Linked DNA regions of Homo sapiens. The protein of the gene in region 1 interacts with the protein of each later gene in a pairwise test. Each region holds a gene or a part of one and is shown on either strand. Other genes may lie near its edges.

Region 1 (3,907 bases):
AACCTTGAGGATTAACCAAACCTCTAATTTCATCTAGCCGTCATTAGATTTGAATTTCTTTTGCCGAAAGTGGAAAGGGAGTGGGGAGGCAGGGGTCCTCCTCTGGAGGGCAGTGGGTGGGGCTGTGGAGGGTTGCTGAGACCCCACCCCACCCCCAGGTATCATCCATGCCCGGGCCCTAGTCAGAGAGTGCCTGGCAGAGACAGAGCGGAACGCCCGCACGTAACAGGAAGCGCCTCGGCCTCAGCGTCTGGACCTATCCGGCCACTGCAGAGCACCCGCTTCTCCCTGGCCTTCATCCCGAGTTGCACTAACCATCCTGGGCTTCCTGTCCTGTGTCCCTTGGTGGGTCCCCTCCAGGAACCAAGGAGTGGCCCTCCAGGTGGCAGCACTAAGGACACCCCCCCACAACAAGAGTTAGCAGCGAGGTCCCCATGAGTCCCACCCATGACCTGCCGACAGTGTTGCCCACCGGAACTTTTGTGGCCCCTACCGCTCAGCCCTTCCCAGCACTTCTCCCACTTTGTCCCGAGCCTCCTTCTCCCCCAGCAGGGGCACAGGCCTGGCACCTCCCTGCCTTGTGTCCTGAGCCATAGTGACTCTTTTATCTGTGTGTCTTTTGCTAAATATGCCCTTTTTATATTAATAAAAGATGATTTGGAGTTGTGCTCTCAGCTCTGAGCCTTTCTGGGTCTGGTTCTTCAGCTAAGCCTGGGTGGGCCAGGCAGAGACAGGGGAAGAGGAGACTATGGATGGGGAGGGTGTGATTAAATGAGGTTTGACTTGCCTCTGTAGGCCATCAGCCTTTGGTGGGACCTGGGCCCTCTCCGCCCCAGCCGTGGCGCTGAGAGCCCTGGGCCTTCCTGTGGTGCCACCAGGGGGCAGCACAGGGCCTGGCTGCTTCCACAGCCCTTGGCGCTGTGGGCAGCCTGGGCCTGGAGGGCGCTTCCTCTGGATTGGCGGTGATGCCTGGCAGCATGGAAATGCCAGTTCACGTAAGCCACTCCCTCACACGCCCTAATGCCCTGACAACACCCCAGCCTCTGAATCAGCCCTGAAGGTCTCTGACTTCTCAGAGAGAAAGGGCACTGCTGCTTCCAGCACTTGGCCTCAGTGTCAAGGGGAGGGGCTGGCGGGGTGCTGCCGTCACTGCCCCAGCACCTTGTAGCAGGCTGGGTGGGATCCCATGAACCCAGCCTTGGGGTGCCTCGTGAGGCCTTTGCCCAGACTCCGGGTGGCTGGGTGACCGGACTTGTGGACCCGGAAGGCAGAGGTGGGGGAGGCTTTGTGGCACCATGCAGGGGCTAGCCCAGCCACTCACAGTGACAGCCCGTTTCTGCCTGGGCGTGTAGCTGGGTGACCATAGAGGCCTGGGGCCCTGGAGCCGAGCCCAGCCCTAGGTGGAGGCATGTCAGAGCCACCAGCTTCTGGCTAGACTGGTGGGGAGGCATTTCCTCAACCCTGGGTCCCAAATCTAAGGACTGCAGAGAGTGAGAAGAGGAGAGTGGGCCTGGGACCCCCCATATCAAACCACCCTGTGACTGCACACAGGAGGGCTGGGCTAGGGTGGAGATAGGAACTAAGAGTCTTTGGGGACCCCAATCAGCACAGAGGGACTAGGAAGAGCCAGAATTTAGGCAATGGCCTTTTTCCCACTGCCCGGGGGAAGGAAGGCAGGGGCCTCCCTCCCTGCCTCCTCCGCTGCAGGCGGGGCTGCCCGGACCCCGCCGGGGTGGGGAGGGCCAGCCGGGCCCAGGAAGGGGGCGGGGCGGCCGCAGTGACGCGGCGGGCGTCGGGGAGGGACTGCAGGGGCGCCGGCGGGCGGATCGAGAGGAAGGTCGGGGCCATGGGCCGGCACTGCGCCTCGGGAGGGTCCGGCCACCGCTGGAACCCGAGGCCGGGGCTGGGGGCGCTCCGGGCTCCGACCCACGGGCCGGCCGGCCCTGCCCGGGCTGGGTGAGGGGCGCCCGCCTCAAGCTAGAGGTGAGCCGGGGCGTCGGCAGGCGGGCCAAGAGCGCGGCAGGGGACCGGGACGCCGGCGAGCAGAGGGAAGTGGGGACAACGGGGCCTCTCGCTTGCTCGCGGGGTGCGAGTGGGGGATGGAGGGGTGCCTGCAGCGGAACCTCGGTGCCAGTCTGGGGCGCAGGTGGACGGAGCGGGTCTCCAGGGCCATGGCCCGTGGGATACCAAGTGGAGCCACTCTGGCCTCAGCCTGAGGAGGGCTCACCCCCTGGGAAGAGGACGGAGTGGCTGCCTAGGCGCGTGGAGAGCCGGCGAGGGCCAGGGGTCCAGGAAGGATGCTGGGAGGGGGAGGTCGAGGACCCGGCTGCCCAAGAAGGCAGATCTGGAGGGCGGAGGAGATTACCGGTCCCGGAAGGTAGGTTCGGGTGCAGGGCGTGGGGAACCCTGGCAGAGATGCTGGGCGCACTGGGCCACTCCGCGCAGAGACACTCGGGGAACAAAGCTCTAGGTGGACGTCCGAGAGTGGGGGACTTGGGACCCCGCCGACTCCGGGAAGGGGATGCAAGGGGCGGGTCCCCGAGGGGCCGGTCGCGGAAGGCGGGCCCGGAAGGAGGGGCCCCGGGGCTTCGGGGGCGCGCCCAGAGGGATGCCGTTTCCCGGGGTTAGGACGCGGTCGCAGCGGGAGAGGTGAGGTGGCCCTCCCGCCCGCCGGCCGGAGCCTGGCGCTCCGGGGGGCCCGCGTCAGCGCGCGGTTGCCATGGCGACGGGCGGGCGGGGGGCGGGGGCTGCGCGGAAAAGAGGTCAGCGCTCAGCCTCGCTGCGGCTCCCGGCCCCGGCGGCGCGGGCGGCGGTGCTAGGCTCGCCTCTGCCTCCCTCGTGGCGGGCCCGGACATGGGGTCCCGTGGCCTGAGTCCCTCGGCCGGCGCGCAGGGCTCGGGGCCGCGCGCAGCCTCCCCGCACTGACTGTCGCGCCGTGCCCTGCGCCAGGAGGAGCGGAGGCCGCGCGCGGCCCGCCGAGCGCCTTCAGGATGCTCATCAAGGAATACCACATTCTGCTGCCCATGAGCCTGGACGAGTACCAGGTGGCCCAGCTCTACATGATCCAGGTGAGGGCGGCGGGGAGAGGGCACCCGGGCAAGGGGTGGAGCCCTGCCGACCCCGCCAGCCCTGCCCCGGGGCTGGGACCGGCTGGGAGCCCGGAGGAGGCAAGAGAGGCCCCCCTTCAGATGTGGGAATGGGGAAGGACTGTGGGAAGAGGGGCAGGAGGGCCGAGTGGTGCTTCCCATCCGCTAAGTGCCCAGCCCTCCTCTGATCTCCTGTAATCCTCCTCAGGATCTGTAATCCCATCGGGGAAGGAAAAAGCGCCCAGGAGGCGGCAAGAATGAGGAGGGGGGCCTCCGCGGCAGAGGAAGGCGGGAGGGGGTCTGGAGAAGTGGAGGGTCCTGGCCATCCCTGGAGGTCAGGGAGATGTGGTGAGGACCAGGTGTCAAACCTGGAGCAGGGACAGGGCAGCAAGGATGGGAGGGCGAGGAGGCTCTGGTGTAGGGCAGTGAGAAGAGTGGGCCAGGGCAGGCCCTCAGCAGTGGCCGGGTTGGTGCGGGGCCTGGGGGAGTCTGCTCCAGATCTGTCCCCAGCACAGCAGGACCAGAATCTCATAAAGCAAGAGGGCCCGGACCCCGCCTCGGGCTTGAAAGGGCCATCTGAGCCCCGGAGCAATAGAAGGCAGGATCTGGGGGCTCTCAAGCTCTGAGGGGTGTGGCGGAGCTGGGATTGGGAGGCGGCCAGGGCCTCCCAGAGAGGGAGGGGGCCAGGGTCAGGGCCTCTGAGAGCTGGAGGCCCCTTTTCCTCTCCTAGTCCCTTCTTCCTTGCCAGCCACCCCGGCCTCCTTGCCACCTGCCAGCACATCCAGTATGCTCCCACCTTGGGGCTGCACTGGCTTCCCCCG
Region 2 (3,807 bases), on another chromosome or scaffold:
AATTGGTGAAGGTAAAACGAATAAATCATTCTTCTGTACAATATTTTTTACTAATCCTTTTGGGATTTTAAATTTTGTTGTTGTTGTTAATGTTCTTTTGCTTCCAATGGCTTAATGGTATCTCTTGCCTGCAGTAATTTGTTGGCAGAGTAGTAAGCTGATGTGTTATTTCTTTGGGGTCAGAGTAAGCCCCAGTATTCACATGAATTTTTCAGAGCTGCAGAAATAGAACGCTTACCACTCCCTGTCCAGGGTAATCACCCCTGGCTCAGTGAAGTTCTTTTGGGTGGAGTAAAGTAACCTCCTTGAGATCTTTAGAGAAGCCTCAGTGTCTTTTTTGATACTTAGTCTTATAGCAAGGAAAACAGAAGCTACTTTGATGAAGAGCAGTTCTCTTAGTCTAGATTAACAGTTAGGATTTTGATAATTCACAGCACAGTTGAAACAGAGGAGTTTTGTCAAAAGGTGGTGGGAGGAATTAATAGGCACTTCTACAAAGTAAGAGTAACAAAAGGAAAGTTGATGGAAACAGGCTCTACCTACCCTCAGTGTTTACAGGTTGTATGGTGGGTTAGCAAGCGGGGGAGTTGGTGAGTTTTTCATATACATCTGAAGAGCTAAGCCAGATAGGCCGTGGTATAACAGAAGAGGTGTGCAGAAACGCTTCAGACAGGAGTACTTTATTCCTAGTTACCATCGGACTGAAGTTTAAGCCAAGTTTTAAATATGGTACCAGTTAACTATAAAGATTCTATCTGAGAAATTGGCTGGACCCGGTGGCTCACGCCTATAGTCCCAGCACTTTGAGAGGCTGAGGCGGGCGGGTCGCCTGAGGTTGGGAGTTTGAGACCAGCCTGACCAACATGGAGAAACCCTGTCTCTACAAAAAATACAAAATTAGTCAGGCGTGGTAGCACATGCCTGTAATCCCAGCTACTCAGGAGGCTGAGGCAGGAGAATTCCTTGAACCCGGGAGGTGGAGGTTGCGGTGAGCCGAGATCACACCATTGCACTCCAACCTGGGCAACAAGAGCAAAATCTGTTTCAAAAAAAAAAAAAAAGATTATATCTGAGAAATTATAAAATTTTATCCTGAAATAGCACTTAGTATGGTATGGGTTTTAGAGTGAAACAGATCTTAAGAAAAATAATTTTAGATTGCGTTTAGAAACAAACTGGCAGTGAATCCTGCTAGTTTTTCTTTGTCAGCACTGATTTTCAAGAGGTCTTGTTATCATCTGATTTTGTTGTATCCTTTTAGAGTATATTCCGTGTGGTGTTCCATGACAGAAGGCTTCAGTACACTGAGCATCAGCAGCTAGAGGGCTGGAGGTGGAACCGACCTGGAGACAGAATTCTTGACATAGGTGAGTTAAGAGAATCTATTGCCTAGGAAATGCCTTTAGCTATGGACCCAGAGTTGGTTTTCTTTATTTGACATTTACCTTGATTCATATGCTTGAGAGGCTCAATTAGTATAAACCTTGAAATTATTTACTAAGCATAAAAAATTTTAAGTAATACAAGTTAAAATGATATCAAAATTGAAGTTGGAAGTGTAAACACTTTAGTTCCATAGCAACTATAGGTTGATTTTGTTGTTTTTTAAGTTGTGGTAAAATATACATTACATAAAAGTTATCATTTTAACCATTTTTAAGTGGATAGTTCAGTAACATTAGGTACATTCACATTATTGTGTAACCATCACTATCATCCATCTCCAGAACTTTTCTCATCTGCAAAACCAGAAGTCTGTACCTGTTAAACAACAACTCCCCATTCTCCCTTCTTCACAGCCCCTGGTAACCACTATTCTCCTTTCTGTCTCTATGAATTGGACTACTAAGTACTGCATAAATGAAATCATACAGTATTTGTCCTTTTGTGACTGGCATTTTTCACTTAGCATAATGTTTTCAAGGTTCATGGTATAGCATACATTAGCATTTCCTTCCCATGCAAGGCTGAATAATACTCCATTGTGTGTATATATCACACTTTGTTTATCCATTCATCCCATGATAGGCACTTAATTTGATTCCATTTCCTGGCTATTGTGAATAATGCTGCTATGAACATGGATGTACAAATATGTGTTTGAGTCTCTGCTTTTAATTCTTTTGGATACATATCCAGAAATGGAATTGCTGGGTCATATGGTAACTCTATCTTAGATTTTTTTTAGAAACCACTATATTGTTTTCCACAGTGACTACACATTTTACATTTCTACCAGCGGTACTCAAAGGTTCCAATTTCGGCCGGGCGCGATGGCTCACGCCTGTAATCCCAAAACTTTGGGAGGCCAAGGTGGGCAGAACATGAGGTCAGGAAATCGAGACCATCCTGGCTAACATGGTGAAACCCCGTCTCCACTCAAAATACAAAGAAATTAGCTGGGCGTGGTGGCGGGCGCCTGTAGTCCCAGCTACCCAGGAGGCTGAGGCAGGAGAATGGTGTGAACCCGGGAGGCGGAGCTTGCAGTGAGCCAAGACCACGCCACTGCACTCCAGCCTGGGTGACAGAGCGAGACTCTCTCAAAAAAAAAAAAAAAAAAAAGGTTCCAATTTCTCCAATCCTTGTCAACACTTGTTGCTTTCCTTTTTTTTTTTTTCCTGAGATGGAGTTTCGCTCTTGTTGCCCAGGCTGGAGTGCAATGGCGCGATATCAACTCACCACAACCTCTCCCTCCCAGGTTCAAGTGATTCTCCTGCCTCAGCCTCCAAGTAGCTGGGATTACAGGCATGCACCACCACACCTAGCTAATTTTTGTATTTTTGGTAGAGACGGGGTTTCACCATGTTGGCCAGGGTAGTCTCAATCTCTTGACCTCTTGATCTGCCCGCCTCGGCCTCCCAAAGTGCTGGGATTACAAGCGTGAGCCACCACACCTGGCCTGTTGCTTTCTATTTTTTGATAATATCCATCCTGATGGTTGTGAAGTAGTATCTCATTGTGGTTTTGATTTGCATTTCCCTGGTGATAAGTGATGTCAAGCATCTTTGCATGTGCTTATTGGCCATTTATATATTTTCTTTCTTTCTTTATTTTTATTTATTTATTTATTTATTTTTGAGATGGAGTCTCCCTCTGTCGCCCAGGCTGGAGTGCAGTGGCATGATCTTGGCTTACTACAACTTCCACCTCCCGGGTTCAAGCGATTTTCCTGCCTCAGCCTCCTGAGTAGCTGGGATTACAGGTGCCCGCCACCACACCCAGCTAATTTTTGTGTTTTAGTAGAGACAGGGTTTTGCCATGTTGGCCAGGCTGGTCTTGAACTCCTGACCTCAGGTGATCCACCCGCCTTGGCCTCCCAAAGCGCTGGGATTACAGGTGTGAGCCAAGGCTCCCGGCCCATCATTTATATATTTTCTTTGGAGAAATGTCTGTTCAAGTCTTTTGCCCACTATCGAATTGGATTGTTTTGTTTTTTTTGTTATTGAGTTGAAAGAATTTTTAAAATATTCTGGATATTAACCCCATAGCAGATATATCACATGCAAATCTTTTCTGTTATTGTGTGGGTTGCTTTTTTACTGTGTTGATACTATCCTTTGATGCACTAAAGTTTTACATTGAGGTGGTCCAATTTATCTAATTTTTTTTAATTCCCTGTGCTTTTGGTGCCACATCCAAGAAATCATTGCCAAATTCAGTGCCAAGAAGCTTTTCCCATATGTTTTCTCCTAAGAGTTTTATAGTTTTAGGTCTTATATTCAGGTCACAGGTCCATTTTGAGTTCGTGTTTGTATATGGTACAACCATATACAAAAAAGGTTGTATGGTAAACCATATACAGAAAGA

Evidence for each region.
Region 2: the proteins of PITPNM1 (region 1) and TFCP2 interact in binary tests that used the Homo sapiens proteins (3 or more experiments, as listed by UniProt).

Annotation. Positions count from the first base shown.
Region 1 is NC_000011.10:67,503,264-67,507,170, reverse strand, and holds the start of PITPNM1 (membrane-associated phosphatidylinositol transfer protein 1), read left to right. Parts: upstream 1-1,807; 5' UTR 1,808-1,983; intron 1,984-1,995; exon of another isoform or gene 1,996-2,377; intron 2,378-2,574; exon of another isoform or gene 2,575-2,649; intron 2,650-2,949; 5' UTR 2,950-2,990; coding exon 2,991-3,068; intron 3,069-3,294; exon of another isoform or gene 3,295-3,434; intron 3,435-3,907. Other genes in the region: CDK2AP2 (cyclin-dependent kinase 2-associated protein 2), read left to right, coding at 159-226. UniProt on the Homo sapiens protein: Catalyzes the transfer of phosphatidylinositol (PI) between membranes. Binds PI, phosphatidylcholine (PC) and phosphatidic acid (PA) with the binding affinity order of PI > PA > PC. Regulates RHOA activity, and plays a role in cytoskeleton remodeling.
Region 2 is NC_000012.12:51,113,875-51,117,681, reverse strand, and holds part of TFCP2 (alpha-globin transcription factor CP2), read left to right. Parts: coding exon 1-11; intron 12-1,261; coding exon 1,262-1,367; intron 1,368-3,807.